2 separate regions of the Homo sapiens genome follow, and region 2 is linked to region 1. The links come from fine-mapping of genetic effects on gene expression. Tissue or cell type: tibial nerve. Region 1 holds a variant in brackets; the other region holds the start of a gene. All regions are shown on one strand. Distances are between the middles of the regions. Region 1 overlaps HADH (hydroxyacyl-CoA dehydrogenase). Region 2 holds the start of HADH (hydroxyacyl-CoA dehydrogenase).

The links. PIP is the estimated chance that this variant, and not a neighbour inherited with it, causes the effect.
Region 2: it holds the start of HADH, and the variant in region 1 is fine-mapped to the expression of HADH in tibial nerve (GTEx, PIP above 0.99).

Annotation. Positions count from the first base shown.
Region 1 is chr4:108,012,427-108,020,765 of GRCh38, forward strand. It overlaps HADH (hydroxyacyl-CoA dehydrogenase), which reads left to right. Exons shown (of 8, transcript NM_005327.7): 3 at 2,005-2,162; 4 at 7,114-7,240. Among named protein-coding and RNA genes, the nearest start is that of HADH, 27 kb to the left of the region's middle. The variant C/T (reference allele first, on the strand shown) is at 4,251.
Region 2 is chr4:107,986,290-107,994,628 of GRCh38, forward strand. It overlaps HADH (hydroxyacyl-CoA dehydrogenase), which reads left to right and starts at 3,600. Exons shown (of 8, transcript NM_005327.7): 1 at 3,600-3,775. The coding sequence starts at 3,644. RefSeq lists a silencer at 3,367-3,596.

The DNA of each region.
Region 1 (8,339 bases):
TTTTTGCCACAAGAGTACACCGAACAAAGGAGACAGGGTCATTTATAACCTGACACGTCCATCTTACTGCTGTGTCCGGTTTCTATTGGCTGGGACGGGACTTCACATTCAAATGTATTTGTCTTGATTGGCTAGCAACTTAGAACTTTTTGAAAGAGGCAAAGGCAGATGAGAACAAAGGAAGGAGGAAGTAACTTGTGGAATGCTGAGAAAGGTAAAAACACCTCTAAATAAGGAAGAGGAACAGGCTATGACCTAATGCCCACTTGGACCAGTATAAGCATGCCAGGGCAAATATTTAGGCTAAATTGTGGGAGCTAAGAACATAAAGTACATTGATTTCTTTATTACAGCTAGCAGATATTGAAGAATGTTAACAGGTCTTAGAATAAATTTTGCTTCTAAGAAAAGTTACTATTTATTCTTAATTAGATGGGGAGGAGAGTCTCTTTGAAGAGGAACTTCTACTTTACTTTTTACATTAAGATATTCTTCACCTGTCCCTTATATTCTTTTTTGTTGAGACGGAGGAGTCTTGCTCTGTAGCCAAGGCTGGAGTGCAGTTGCGCGATGTCGGCTCACTGCAAGCTCCACCTCCCGGGTTCACGCCATTCTCCTGCCTCAGCCTTTTGAGTAGCTGGGACTGCAGGCGCCCGCTACCACGCCCAGCAAATTTTTGTATTTTTAGTGGAGACGGGGTTTCACCATGTTATCCCGGATGGTCTCGATCTCCTAACCTCGTGATCCGCCTGCCTCGGCCTCCCGAAGTGCTGGGATTACAGGTGTGAGCCACTGCGCCCGGACCATCTGTCCCTTATATTCTTAATTGTAGTGGGACCCCATGCAGGGGATGTTATGAGGAGGGTCCAGACAGATGAGATTATAAGAGCCCTGGGCTGAGGGTTGGAGTCTAGGACAGAGTGAGTTTGACCCAGATAGCCTGCATTTTCTGCTTGTTTACAGACTTTCAGCTAATTGTCTCCTTGGGCTGAGTTTCTGAGCCACACCCTAAAGATAAAAGGATGGCCCCTATGCTCAAGTTGCTCAGCTCTGGCTAGCTACTCCTCAGAAGTCTATACTCCTGAGGTTTCTCTCCTCTGCCAGGGACACCACTGAGGAGGGAGGTGTCAGTTTCTCTGCCTAGTTGACATACTATGCTTATCTAGCTCTATACTGACCACCAATATAATAGCTACTCACAAGTGGCTACTGAGTGCTTGAAATGTGGCTAGTCTAGATAGAAATGTGCTCTGAGTGTAAAATAGACACTAGATTTTAAAGCTATAATAGGGGAAAAATATATAAAACATCTCAATATTTTTAAATATTGAGTACCTGTTAAAGTGATGGCATCTTAGATATATTGGGTTAAATAACATTAATTTCACCTGCGAATGTCTTTTCCCTTTTTTTAATGTGGCTAGTAGAATATTTCTGTATAACAGCTGAGATCTAGCTGCTTATTCCATGATGATTTTGGATGCCTTTGCTGATTATGACTATTTTGATGCCCTGTGGACAAATTACACTATGAAATAAAATGGCGGCTTATAGAGGCACCATCTCCAATTCTGTCCTTATTGAGGTCTGTGGAAACCTGGAGTCACAGGAGAAAAATGAGGAAACGATGAAAACTACAGGCTCTTTGGCAGCAGAGGCTGTGTCTAGCTTGTTTCGGAAACAACAGTTTCAGGCATATGACAGACAATAATTATTTGATAAATGCTAAGTCGGCTTTCTTACCCTGGCTCTTGCCCTTGCTCTAATAGGAGCTAGTCTCTGCTTTTATTAGAGAGGAATAGTCAGCACCACCTCAAGACTAATGGATGGCAGGGAGCTATGGAAGGATAAATTACAGGCTTCGTGGACACTTTGAGAACAGATAGGGTAGGCCAATACAGGTGCTCTGAACACCCAGTTTGCTAACTGGAGCAGAGCTAAGAACTTGAAAGATAATTTCCAGTGAGCCCGGTGAATGTTCTCTTCTTCCTCCCACTGCATTAGGCCGGCGATGAATTTGTGGAGAAGACCCTGAGCACCATAGCGACCAGCACGGATGCAGCCTCCGTTGTCCACAGCACAGACTTGGTGGTGGAAGCCATCGTGGAGAATCTGAAGGTGAAAAACGAGCTCTTCAAAAGGCTGGACAAGTTTGCTGCTGAGTATGTAACCTCTGGACAATCTTCTTTTTTTTTTTTTTTAACCTTATTTTTGTTTTTCATTTTTATTTTTTGTTTTTATAGATTTGTGAGTACAAGTGCAGTTTTGTTCCATGCCTATATTGTGTAGTGGTGAAGTCTGGGCTTTTAGTATACCCATCACCCACATAGTGAACACTGTACCCAATAGGTAATTTTTCAACCCTCGCCACCCTCCCACCTTTTGAACTCTCCAGTGTCTGTTATTTCCCTCTGTACATCCATGGGTACCTGTTATTTAGCTATCACTTATATGTGAGAACATATGGTATTTGACTGAGTTGTTTCACTTAAGATAATGGCCTTCACTCCTGTTCATGTTGCTTCAAAAGACATGATTTTATTCTTTTTTATAGCTGAGTAGTATTCCATGGTGTATATATGCCACATTTTCTTTAATCAGCCATTGATGGACACTTAGGTTGATTTCGTGTCTTTGCTATTGTGAATAGTGCTGCAATAAACATATGAGTGCAGGTATCTTTTTGATAGAATGAGTTTTTTTCCTTTGAATATATACCCAATAGTGGGGCTGCTGGATCGCATGGTAGTTCTGTTTTTAGTTTTTTGAGAAATCTCCATACTGTTTTCCTTAAAGGTTGTACTAATTTACATTGCCACCACCAGCATGCAGGGGTTCCCTTTCTCCAGATTCTCACCAACATCTGTTGGTTTTGACTTTTTAATAAAAGCCATTCTGACTGGTATCAGGTGCTAAACTCATTGTGGTTTTAATTTCCATTTCTCTGTTGATTAGTGATGCTGAGCATTTTCTCATATGTTTATTGACCACTAGTGTGTCTTTTTTTGAAAAATATCTGTTCATGACCCCTGGACATTCTTGACAGATTCTGAGGGGTCCCTCCCTGGGCCTTGAACTTTCCTCCTTGTTTATTGCCTTCTCCCAGGAAGGGATCCTTTGACCAAGTTTATCCACCTCCCTCTCTCCTACCCCACAGCTATTTCAAGAAAAGCCAATATGGTTTCCGTTGTTCTCCATCCTCCCACTCCCAGTTTGCTTCTGAAGCTTGGGCTGCTGTGATCTGATCCTTGTCCCAGATGCGTGTAGAATTACCCATGGTAACATGGAGGGGTCCATCCAGGGACAGGCCTATGTTTCTTGAAGTGTGTAGGTCATGGATACTCCTATGCCAGAAGCTGCTCTGACGTTCCTTGGTTCATTTCACACTGGCATCTAGAGGCTGCAGAGACATCTGACAGCAGACAGTTAAGGACATGTAGGGTACTTCTGTGCTCCACTCTCGGGCATAGGAGTACCCTACGTGTCCTTAACTGTCTGCCAAGGACCCTCAGAGCAGTTCTGTGTTTCCTCCTTTTTTGGATGGAGCAAACAGAATGGTGTAATTGAAGGGAATGCCTATAGACAGAGAGGACTTTCCTGTTTTGAGCTTCATCTGGGTTCAATCGAAGTACTCTTGGGAGTGTTAAAGGAGCATTGACTTCTTAGCTGGCTGGCTTCCTGGTGGAATTCTTCCTGGCAGAATGTACCTTGGGATCCAGAGCCTTCGAGTGTGTGACACCTGACCCACTGATCAGTGCTCTTCTAGTGACTTGTTTGACTATATTTTCATGCTTCTTGGTTGGAATTGAATGGCAGAATAAGATTATATGACAAAAGCAATTCTCAGGGCACTTCCGGTGGGCAGTGGCTAAAGAGAGTCACTTGCATACCAGCTTGTCGGAATGTTAACCTTCAGAGATGGGTGGCCTTGTGGCCAGAGAGGCCCTGCCCCTGACAAAGAGAAGAGACTTGCCTTTCTGTCATCTGTCCATCACTGCCAATCAGTGTCCTCGTGCATTTCACACTGGCATCTAGAGGCTACAGAGACATCTGACAAAAACAGAATATACTTGTGGTACCGGGACTGGCTCCCAGGCCAGCAGGGAGCCCTCTGGGATAATAAACAGCCACCCCAAAAAAGGGAGTTTTGTCAAGCAGTTTGATCTTTATTGAAAAGATTGGTCGCTCTTGGTGACAGTGAAAGGCCTGACTGCCCTCCATTGTCCATGTCTGGTACAGAAGAAGGATCA[C/T]TGGAGAAAGTCAGGAGGCCTGGGCCTGGTGCTGACCCCCTCACCACCTCCAGCCTTGGAAAGGTCCTCAGTTTCGTCATCTGTAATGCAAGTTGAGGTGATTGGGGTAAATAATTTCCTAGACCTTTCTGGCTCTAACTCTCTAAGACTAGCTTCCCCCATTTGTAAAATAGGAGCAGCAGCACTGGTACCTATTGTACAGAGTTGTTTAGGAAACTCATTTCATTTAGCTCACATTTCCTGAGTGCCTGCTGTGTATCAGGCACTACACTAGGCTCTTTAACCTGAATTGATGCAAAACAGATATGAGGTGTGAAAAGAAGGCATGACCCATAGTCATACCAAAGATGTGACTTTGCTGCTGACCTTCTCCACCTTTCTTGGCACTGTTTGTTTTTGTTTTAGATCACCACCATTATTGAATGCTTGCTACAATTTTTAAGCAGCCGTATTGAGAGGTACTTTACTGACAAATTTTACAGTTCGATCCTATAATGGGAGAAGAAAATATAGTCAAGTGATACATTTCGGGTTGGAAGCCCTGATGAAACAGTTGCATCCTGGAGAGAACATGACTTCTCTAGCAGCAGCCTAAGACACACAAATGAAAAGTATGACCAGACGCACAGGCAGCCAGATCGAAGTCCTGACTTTCCCCTTTAGACAAAGTACAGACTCTTGAATCCTTTGCCATCCCCACCAACCCTCTTGTCTTCTTTATACTAGGGTCTGGGGCCATTGCTAATAATCACTGTGCTTGTGTTGTCGATTTTCTTTTAGAACATTTAAGAGAAAAGTAGTTTTTTTGGTACCTGAGTGTCCGAATGAAAAAAACAAAAGATGGTTCAAGACAAGTGTTTCCAGGAACATGTAAGAGTACTTTTTTTTTTTTTTTGAGACGGAGTCTCGCTCTGTCGCCCAGGCTGGAGTGCAGTGGCATGATCTTAAGCTCACTGAAACCTCTGCCCCCCAGGTTCAAGCAATTCTCCTGCCTCAGCCTCCCTAGTGGCTGGGATTACAGGCATGCGCTACCATGCCCAGCTAATTTTTGTATTTTTAGTAGAGACGGGGCATGTTGGCCAGGCTCGTCTCGAACTCCTGACTTCAAGTGATCCACCTGCCTCGGCCTCCTAAAGTGCTGGTATTACAAGTGTGAGCCACCGTGCCCAGCCCAGAGTACATTTTGTTTGTGGATGAAAAGACTGTCCTATGTGTTTAGTATTCTCTGAAGACAGTGTGAGACTTTTAGGAACAAAGTCAGCCTGACCCTGTTGGGAGAGGCAGAAGCAGAGGTCTGCTGGGGAGAGATCATTTCCTCCTTCTGATAAAATGTGCCAGAGTGCCCTGGACTGGTGATACCTGGAACTGGGCTCTGATGTCACTTTATTTTACCAAATGTGCCCAAGTTTCCCCTTTTTGCAGGTGAATGGCCCTTCAAACATTCTACAAAAAGGGGTATTACGATTGTAATACTAATCTTTAAAATAACACTTTCTTTTCTTAACGGGAGTGTGGAGCCACAGCTGGCACAGCCTTGGGCCCAGGCTGTCCCTGCTCTGTTTTTGTGGTTCCAGGTGCTTGTGGTGCAGGTTGTGTGGTTGAACAGTGCTTGTGTTGGCCACACACATTGTTATTGGAAGAGGATCTTTTTTTCATTACCTTCTGTAATGGGGAATAGTTTATATTATTTTCCCCAATGACCAAAAGCAAGAAACTTTGAAAACTGAAATTTTAAGACCTTAAAACAATGTCATTTTTTTTTTAAAAAGGAAACCCTGGCATTTAAATGGCCTACCTTGGAAGCTGTTGGAGAAGGTGGATGTGCTCATACCTGGAAAGAGAAGGCTCTCCGCTGCCTACCCACACTGGTCTCGCCTTTTACCTCTTTTCCCTCCTTTCCAAATAACTGGTTTCTTCTCCCTTCTCTTCCTCCTCTCCTCCCACCCGCCCCTGATTTGAGCAGATTATAGTATTGCCTGTTAGGTAAGCAGAAACCCCCAAGCCTGGTCAGTAAGGGATCCTTTCCTTTCCTGCCCTGTTACAGTCCATCTTGGTTGGAATCAGCACCAGGCCTGTTTGTATGTTTTTATCCGCAAGGTGGCGCTGCAGGAAAGCCTGGAAGTCAACCTGTTTAAAGCTTTTCCTCTCATGCTTTTGGCACGCCACTTTACTGTGGCCTTAAAGAACTAAATTTGGTTTAAGTCAGTATGGATTTTTTTTAATGAATAAGTTAATGTCTTATATATGCATATGCCTATATCCTCTTTTCCCCATATCTACCCATGTAACCTTAAAATTTTTTTGAACCATGTTGGTGTTCTTGTTTTCATTTTAATTCCCATTCAATTGAAAAATAAAGCTTTTCACTTCAGGGAAAATATCTTAATTCACGTTTATTATCATATGTTTCTGATTGAGGATTTATGTGTTCATTTAGAATTTTGTTGCTTTTAGGTGTCTTTCTTTCATTATTTTTTGATCACTGAGTTTCGTTTGTGACTGGGGTTGGTTAAGTAGCTTGATCAATTAGCCACCTCTTGTTATCTCACATACCTTGGAAGTTAACTAATACAAGTAGGTAGGGGAAATTTTGTTCTGGAAAATCAAGGAAGGATTGGTGAAGGTTAAATACCTCTTCGGAACAGGAAATTCCAATTTTATTTCAAATTTAAAAATTTTTAAAAAGCTGAAGTCACTTGATTTCAGCCTCTTATATGAAGATGTGTCTTCTCCCTCATTCCCCCAATGGGTCAGGACAACAGATGTGGCAGTAAGCAGTCACCTTGTGCATTGCATCCAAGAGTCATGCTGTTTTGAAAGAAGAGATTCACTCTGATACTCCCACTATATTTTCTCTTCACAGACATACAATCTTTGCCAGCAACACTTCCTCCTTGCAGATTACAAGCATAGCTAATGCCACCACCAGACAAGACCGATTCGCTGGCCTCCATTTCTTCAACCCAGTGCCTGTCATGAAACTTGTGGAGGTCAGTGGGTGTCAGCTTGTGTGTGTCTGCCCGCTCTGCCAGCTCTCTCAGTCCTGCTTTTCTGTGTTACACCAGCCCTGCCACCAGTTGCCTAGGATGGGTTTTAACCTGAGGGTAGAAGGTTGTCCCTGAGCCTCATATCTAGGAGGGCTTCTATGCTTTGTTTCTTCACAGCCCTGTGTCTTGCTTAGTGATATCCAGAAAGGCTGTTAACTTTGTGGAATGTCATTTACTTATTTGTGCCAGAGCTGATGGGCAGTGCTGAGAGGCATCAGAATGGGAAGGCAGCACTAGAAACCGTGGGCTGGATGGGACCACACAGAGGGCAGCTACATGTGTTCATATTATCTCGTCGAGGTCAGCTTGCCCATGCTGTAAATGCAGTTCTCATTAGATACACTATACTAGCTTGTCCACAGTTCCTGGGGTTAATTCTGACCCCATGTAATGGTGCCTTAGCGTTGTCCCCAGATGAGGTACATCTCCTGTGCATTGTGATCAGAGCTATTAAAACCAGCTCCCATTGGGTGCGGCGGCTCATGCCTGTAATCCTAGAACTTTTGGAGGTGGAAGTTAGTGGATTGCTTGAGACCCAGGGGTTCAAGAACAGCCTAGGCAACATGGCAAGACCCCATTTCTACAAAAAATAAAAAATCAGCCAGGGGTTTTGGTGCACGCATGTAGTCTCCAGTACTTGGAAGGCTGAAGTGGGAGGATTGATTGAGCCTGGGAGGTTGAGGCTGCAGTGAGCTGTGATTGCACCACTGCACTCCAGCCTGGATGACAGAGCAAGATCCTATATCGAATAAAAAAACCCTAAAAGTAAAAAAATAAAACCAGCTTCTGATAGCCTTGAGCCTCCTGACCATAAACCTGGAAGGTGGAGCGGGGAGGCAGGGAGGGCTTCCCCAGCATCCTGTTTGGAATGCTTGGAGACTCCAATATGTTGGAGTTGGAGTCACAGTAGGCAATTTGCACCTGAAATGGGACAACTTGCCTTTTACAGGGTCCTAATTACAGGGTCTGAGGAGCAGCCGCTATTAAAGTAGCATTTGTTCTGAGGTTGAGGAGTTATTGCCCTGCGAAGTGTGGGGGACGC
Region 2 (8,339 bases), 26 kb before region 1:
TTTCCAGTTAATAACCAAACTGTTACCAAATATAAAAAATCTGGATAGAGGGGATTGGTCAATGGGTGCAAAGTTACAGTTAGACAGGAAGAATAAAAGCTGCTATTCTATTACACAGTAGAATGACTACAGCTAATAATAATGTATTGTATATTTCAAGATAGCTAGAAGAGATGATTTTGAATGTTATCCCCAAAAAGAAATGATAAATGCTTAAAGTGACATATTATTTAATAATTATCCTGATTTGATCATTGTTCAACATATACATGCATTGAGACATCACACTGTACCCCATAAATATGTACAATTATTATTTGTCAATTGTACATAAAAGTAAAAAAAAAAAACTATCAGAATGATGCCTGCAAAAGGTATCTTGTGCTTCCGGGCATTGCATACTTAAGACGTTGGGGACTACCTATGTGGGTACAAATAATTGCTTGTGTGATTTCACTGGATTAAATCTAGCAAAGTCTTTTTACTAGATCCAGTGGTTTGCACCCTTACAACATGCTATATAGGGACCACAGAAGAGTAAGTTCACCACTGGATTTTATTCAGGAGCTATGCCAACTTGTGGGTGGACAAATTTAACTGACCTCGGCTCAAACACCACTAAGTGGCCCTCTTTTCAAGCCCCCAAGGGCCTACATTGGGTTGGTGGATAATCTGACCTGCCTTCTCTGTTGTTTCCTCACTGGTTCAGATCTTGCTATTTGGCCTGGCTCGCTCCTACATCCCAATAGCCTTCCCTGAAAGTTCCCATAATACCTTTCATAATCAGAGGTTAAAGCAGTCAATAACCAAAGTAAGCACCAACCTAAAAATAAATGAAGACAAGTTAGTTTCTACTGAGGAAAGGTTCCAATGGAGGTGCTGGAACTCACTCTTGGCATTAGCAGGGTGCCTGTTGTATGGAATTTGAAACTAATCTATAAATTGGGGAAAATCTTGAATTTGTAGCCAGTCAGACCTCCTAGGGGTTCACATGGTAGAAGCTACTCAAATATTCTCAGTGGATCAAAACATTTGTGTTCAACAAACACACTTCATGGAACATTACACAACTTTGGATCTCCTCTTTGCTCATGCTGGGGGCTCTTGCATGGTGCTGAATAAAACTGAATGTTGCACTTATTTTTCCTCTAATTTTACTACTATAGAAAACTTAATTTAAAAGGTGGCAGATACTGCTGTTTCTCTAAACACTGCCACTGAATATATTAAGGAAACTTCTCAGGGGAAAGGAACACATGATACATTTATGGGAGCAGCTAATGGTTGGTTTGTAGGCATCCTGAGTAGTGAAAGGCAAGCTAGGCTATTCCAAACTTTTCTAATCTTTATGCTTCTTTAGTGGCTCTCCAGGTTATTATAACTTGTGTTACCAGGCTAATTACAAAAATGGATACCTCTTTAAATCAGGCCATAAGGCTGAATCAGGTCATTCAGTGAACTATGGTCCTTGTAAAAAGTAAAGTAGAGGTTCCTTTTCAAAGACTTTCCTCCTCATCTGATTAGGAATAAATAGTAACCTCTCTTAGAAGCAAAATTTATTCAAAGACCTGTTAACATTCTTAAATATCTGCTAGCTGTAATAAAGAAATCAATGTACTTTATGTTCTTAGCTCCCACAATTTAGCCTAAATATTTGCCCTGGCATGCTTATACTGGTCCAAGTGGGCATTAGGTCATAGCCTGTTCCTCTTCCTTATTTAGAGGTGTTTTTCCCTTCTCAGCATTCCACAAGTTACTTCCTCCTTCCTTTGTTCTCCTCTGCCTTTGCCTCTTTTAAGAATTTCTAAGTTGCTAGCCAATCAAGACAAATACAGAATGTGAAGTCCCGTTCTAGCCAATGGAAACCAGTCACAACAGTAAGGTGGACGGGTCAGGTTATAAATGACCCTGCCTCCTTTGTTCGGTGTACTCTTGTGGCAAAACTGCTGGCGAGTGTACTCTTTCCGCAGAAAGTAAAAATGGCCTTGCTAAAGAAATTAATTTTATGTTCAAGTGCTATTTCTTTACGGCACCAAGAAATAAGCATTTCTAGCAGTCCTTAACCGCCATAATGCCCTAAATTAGACCATGACCAATTGGACTCAAATACTTTGAACTATCTTTATTGCCTGAACTTTGAATTGTTTAATTTTGATCAGTTCAGTTTGTGGAGACTCCTGTTAAGGTGTGTACCTCAGTTTATTGCTATACTCCTTCTCGTGGCCATAATAGTCTCCCTGATGTGTTGTTGTCCCCTCGAGAGTCTTCAATGTCTCTATGCAGCCATCCTTTGTACACCAAATGGTGTTATTACAGTTAGAATAACAACATGAAGAAAGTATAATCACTCAACTAATTTGACATTGTGACTTCCATACTGAGACAAAACAAGGTTCTGGTCAATCTCGTAAAACTGAGAGGCTGACCCAAAGGAGGAAACTGTTATTAAATTAAATCTGGCCTAAAGTTGCCTCCCTACCTAGCAAAGCATAATCAAACCTAATATGTAAATAAACTGCAATGTAATTTGAGAGTACGTTCTTCTAACAAGTGGCCAAGTCTTGGCCAATCACCGCAGCGGAGCTTTTAGCCCATTACAGGCTGCAAAAAATATTGTCTATAAACGCGGCTTGCCCACTGTTAGGGGCTGGAGCTCTCTGAACCTTTACTGGCTCAGGATACTACATGATTCATGCTTTCTTTGCTCAGATAAACTCTGCTAAACTTGTTTGAAGTTTTTTTGTTAACAATATTTAAACATAAAGCAAATAAATTAATAAGAATCCTATATCACTAAGTTACAGTAATTAGAAAGTATTCACCTGAGTGAGAAGATTGGCCAAGCTGCTATCCAGTCTTCCATTATTTGACAAGACATTTCTTTCCTATGCTTTCTAATAGTATTCGTTATTCCAGAAAGGTTGCTCTATGACCTTAAACCGTCCACATGTTCACTGCACTGATAGACGTCCAACGTCAAGATGGGTAACTAAAGGTCAACTCTCTCTTTACCTTCCCTGAGCCTGATTTTTGCATTGTAACTCATGGTCACTAGACATTTGTTTTGGGTGTTCGCAGTCTACATTTATTTCCCTTTTAGGGGAAACAATCACTGTCCACGGGATTAAAATAATCCCGAGTTGATTATTTGGTGACATCAACCAACGGTGCACATTTTGGGTCCATTACCAACACAGCCAAGCAGCACATATTTCTTCAGAGCCTAGATATGCACATGTCATCAAAGGATAGCATTTTACAGAGTCAACACCACTCACTTCATAGAACAAGGGGCCAGTGGCTTTTCAGAAGAAGGGTCTGTTCTCGGCCCCACACCAGAACGCCAGCCGCCAGGTCCCGCTGCTCAGCAGGTCTCAAGCCCGCGCTCACTCGGGCTCCGGCTGCTGACAGCTGCGAGCCCGCGCGTGTATACCCGCTCAACGCTGGGACGTTACAGCCAGGGCCAATGGGCAGAGCGGGACTCGAGGCCCCGCCCCCGCCTTGTGGCGTCACGGGGACGCCGGGGGCGCGCGGGCTGCAGGGCCGCGTAGGTCCCCGCCCCCAGAGTCTGGCTTTCCGCGGCTGCCCGCCTCGCGCGTCTTCCCTGCCCGGGTCTCCTCGCTGTCGCCGCCGCTGCCACACCATGGCCTTCGTCACCAGGCAGTTCATGCGTTCCGTGTCCTCCTCGTCCACCGCCTCGGCCTCGGCCAAGAAGATAATCGTCAAGCACGTGACGGTCATCGGCGGCGGGCTGATGGGCGCCGGCATTGCCCAGGTGAGCGGCCCTCCCTGCAGCGTGCCCACGCGCTTGGCCGCCCACCCTGAGGTGGAAGCTCTGGCGCGACCGGCCGCGAGGGGCCTGCACCCGCCCGACACCAGGGAGTTTTCACCCCGCGCCTCCCGGGTGTAGTTGAAATATCTCGCGTCTGGGCCTGTGAGGGCCCAAGTCTCACTCCCCTCAAAATTCAGGGTTCTGGGCCGATCCTCAGCTTCCTCGTTTGGAAAATTCTGGCTGCCCCCAGGGCCCGCTGAAGGTTCCATGGAGAGTGGCGGTGAATGCATTTTGGAAGCGGGCCGTGCAAGAGAAGAAAGAATTGTATGTGCACAAGGTTCAGGCATAACGCGTTTGTTCCTGCTCGGCTCAAACGGGAGTTTGCTGCCAAAGACATGAACTGCGATCAGTTTTAATTCTATCAGTTATTTTTGATTTTTATTCTGTAATTGTGCAGTCTTTGTCAAAGTAGTTTTCTCTCCTAAACGGCCTCCCGGCTCTCCCCGGTCTTTCCTTCGCTTGCTAGGTTGTAAAGAATAGTAGTAGTCATGACTTTTGTAGCACTTTGTAAAGTCACCTAATGGAAGATTGCTGAGGTCCTGGTTTTGACCTTTGAAATAGTGCCGTCTGTGCAGAGTTCTGAGCTTGCGATTTTGGCGCTGCAGCGGAATAAGTCTCTCTCTTTTTTTTTTTTTTTTTTTTTTTGAGTCGGAGTCTCTTTGACCCAGGCTGGAGTGGAGTGCAATGGCGCGATCTCGGTTCACTGCAACCTCCGCCTCCCGGGTTCAAGCGATTCTCCTGCCTCAGCCTCCCGAGTAGCTGGGATTACAGGCGCCCCGCCCGGCTAATTTTATATTTTTAGTAGAGACAGGGTTTCACCTTGTGGGTCAGGCTGATCTCGAACTCCTGACCAAAGGTGATCCGCCCGCCTGGCCTCCCGAAGTGCTGGGATTACAGGCGTTAGCCACTGCACCCAGCCGGAACAAGTCTTTTATCCATTGTACATCTTCAGGGCTTTTCCATTGTTCTGCTGAGCTGTGGTTCAGGCTCAGTTGTGCGAGTGATTGATTACCTGGCTACTGTAATGCTTGTACTTTTTTTTTTTAAAAATTATTCCATTTCAGCTCACATTGGAGAACCATGGTTTTCGTATCCTAGCTGATTATATTCTTAGCATTTCAGTCCTTTGCAACTTGGTTTGTTGGGGAAGGCGGTTATAGTCATCTAATTTTTCTTGGGGACAGTACTACTGTGGCTACAGTCATGAGAGAGTTTACTTTTTCAATGTCTTGTTTCCAACCAAGTCCACGCTTTCATGCTTGCTTTTTAAAAACAAAAACAAAAAAACCTTTTACTATTAGGTATTATATATCTCAATTTTCTTCTCCTTGGCAAGTTTTTTACAACGTTTTTATTTGATTGCATTTTCTTCTAAAAGCTATATCCCTGTAATGTTTTATTTATATGACTTCTTACAGTCTCCCATTTCCTCTGAGACCATAATTTTGGACATACATTGCCCTTTTTATTGTGTGGATCCCCTGGCTGCTAGGTTATAGTATCCCCATAATCTATGTTGTATGTGGACTGGGAGGAGTAACTCCCTTTAACCTAAAAGTTCCACAGGTTATACTCAAGAGAAAGTTTAGTTTGAGTACGTTTGTATTCCCAGGCTCCACCCAAATCTCCCAAGGCTGTGAGAGTGAGATTTGTTGTGAGCAGGAATAGAACAATGTGTTTTTTAGAAACATTTTAACAACATCTTAGTAACAAAATATTAGGGCCTTAAGCAGCCTCCAGGAACATTATGGGAAATGGATCCAGAAACTTGTGGCTGGTGTCCTTGAAGACAGCAGTGGAAAAAGATTAGAAACTAAGTAGAAAGCGTCACTTCAACTTTTGTAGAAAATCAGAGTGCTTAGTTCTTTGAATGCTGCATCCATCATTGGCCAAAAATGGATGTTGTGTTGCATTAAAAGGCAGAGGGGCAATACCTAAAATTACAGGTATGGTGTTGGAGCTTTCACCTGACAAAGGAGTAAGGAGAAATGATTGACATTAATGGAGAACACAGGCTTGTGCTTGTCAATCAAACTCTTAAATAGGTGGACCAGGGAGTGCCTTTTGAAACTTAAGGGAAAAAAAAGCTATTTATGCCATAGGCTGGACACATAATGGAACTGTCATTCTGAAAGGTTATAAAGACCAGAAATCTATAAAGTGGACGACCATAAGAAACAGTTCCATCCTTATGTAACACAGTTTGGAAAAACCTCAGTTACTTTAGTTGACAGCTCCAATCCTCTAAAACATTTGTGAGCAATGCTTTGCAGTGGTTTAGCTTATCTGCTTTTGCACCCTACCCTGTAGCATGCAGTTCTAGGCAGTATTGCTTCATTCTTTATGCTCCTTGACCAACAGCTTTTGGCATAGGGTAAATCTGTTTTGCTTATTGAGTGCCAGAGACGAATTAGTTGATGTGTTTTGAGTACAGATGGGCTACAGTTCAATATAAGAAGTTGGATGGTCTGCATGCTAGCTCTGCCTCATGCAGTATTAACATGGGACTTTACCTCTGTGTCTCGGTTTTCTCATCTCTAAAGTAGACTAATGCTAGTACTGGCCTCGTAGGGAGAGAATTGAATAAATTCAATGAATTCATGCATATGTCAAGCAGTTACATATATCAAGCATATGTCAAGCACTTACACAGTGTCTGGCATGTAATAAGAGTTCACAGAAAGTTAGCTGCCTTTATAATAATTATCTTCGGCCCGGCATGGTGGCTCAAGCCTGTAATCCCAGCACTTTGGGAGGCTGAGGGGGGCAGATCATCTGAGGTCAGGAGTTCAAGACCAGCCTGGCCAATATGGTGAAACCCTGTCTCTACTAAAAATACAAAAAAATTAGCCAGCATGGTGGCATGTGCCTGTGGTCCCACCTACTTGGAAGGCTGTGGCAGAATAGTCTCTTGAACCTGAGAGGTGGAGGTTGCAGTGAGCCGAGATCGCACCACTGCACTGTAGCCTGGGCAACAGAGCGAGACTCCGTCTCAAAAAGATAAATAAAAAGAATAATCATCATCTTCATTGCAGTTGTCCTGTCCTTTTGCCCTTTTCCCCTCATATCCACTCCCATCCTGATCACAGCTGCTGAGGTAGGCCTGTAAGGTTTAGATGGAGAATATTGGTCATGATTCCCTGTTTCATCTTGCTTAATCTTGAATGCATATACCCGCTGATGCTGCAGCGGGTATGTTTTTTCAGGGACCTCTGAAAGGAGGGAGAACACTTTTTAGTTACCCCCCATTTTATTGTTAAACTTTAGTAAAGCCATAAAAGTACAATCACAAACTAGTATTGAGGTTATGTTACTGATTTTCATTAGCTTAATTTTCTTGAACTTTCTGACGTGGTTTTAATGTTAGTCAAGGTGCAGTTCTGCTTATAATTTTAATAGTTTTGTCATTTTAAACACGTCAGTTTGTGCTCAGAAGGATGAAAAAATATTTAAATAGATTTTGTGGGAGCCTGATGCATTTCTCAAGCAATTAAGCAATTTAAGACAAGTTCAGTGCTTAATTACATTTGATCAGAGCACAGGCCATTTGTACATGTGTATTTTCCGAGAGTATCTACTTTGCCTGTCATTTCTTTTGTTTGTTTTAAATTAAAAAAACAAAAAATCCCTTAGACTGCAGGTTAATATTTGAAGTTAACTTGTTTCATGTGTTTGCTTATTACACACTTCTGACTTGGTTTTGATTGCTAATTTATCTTCACTGGATACTTAGGCCAATAAAGAAGCTTATAGGATTAAATGAGCCTTGAGTGGGGGACAGGTTGTTTTTTTGCTTTATAAAGAGGAAAACAAGAAAGGAAGAAAGCTGGTAGCTGTGTGCATTTCTCCAGTATTGAATCCTTTCTAGGCTTTGCTTCATACATTGGGTTTTTTCATATGAGGAGCCCAGAGAGAATGCATAGCTTTCATTAGATTACTTGTGAGGAGCCAGTGGGCTCCCTGGGAACGGGGCACTTCAGATGTCCCCCTTGAGACACTTTACATGCTCTCCGGGTGCAACCTTCTTTTTAGTGCACTACTCTTCTTTGAGGAAGTGAGAAAGTTTGCATCTTAAAGGGGGTTGGGGATAGGTTCTTCTCTCCCAAAGCTTGCTTTTTTTTTTTCCTCCTTTTTAAAAAGCAGAAAGTGCATATTTTTTCTAGAGAGAGCTTCTTTGGCTATTAAAAACAAAGTAAGGGCAGGGAGAGCCTGCTACGTTGCAGGGATTTTGTGTGACTCTACCATGCTTGATAAGGATTCAGGTAGACCTGAAAGCTTCTCCCCAGCCACTGGATTTGTTCTCTCATCTCTTCTTCTTGCCCCCAAATCTGCATTTTCTGATGCTGAAAAAGAGAATGATCAGAGTTGTTTCATATTTTTTTAGCTTTATTCTCTTCTACTGTGAGTACAGCTCTGTTGAGCTGTACAGTACAGTACTGCTTTGCTTGCAAAGCAGTACAGATGCCTAGGAGAAGTTTCAGGATCACAGGAGACCAGCAGTTACCTG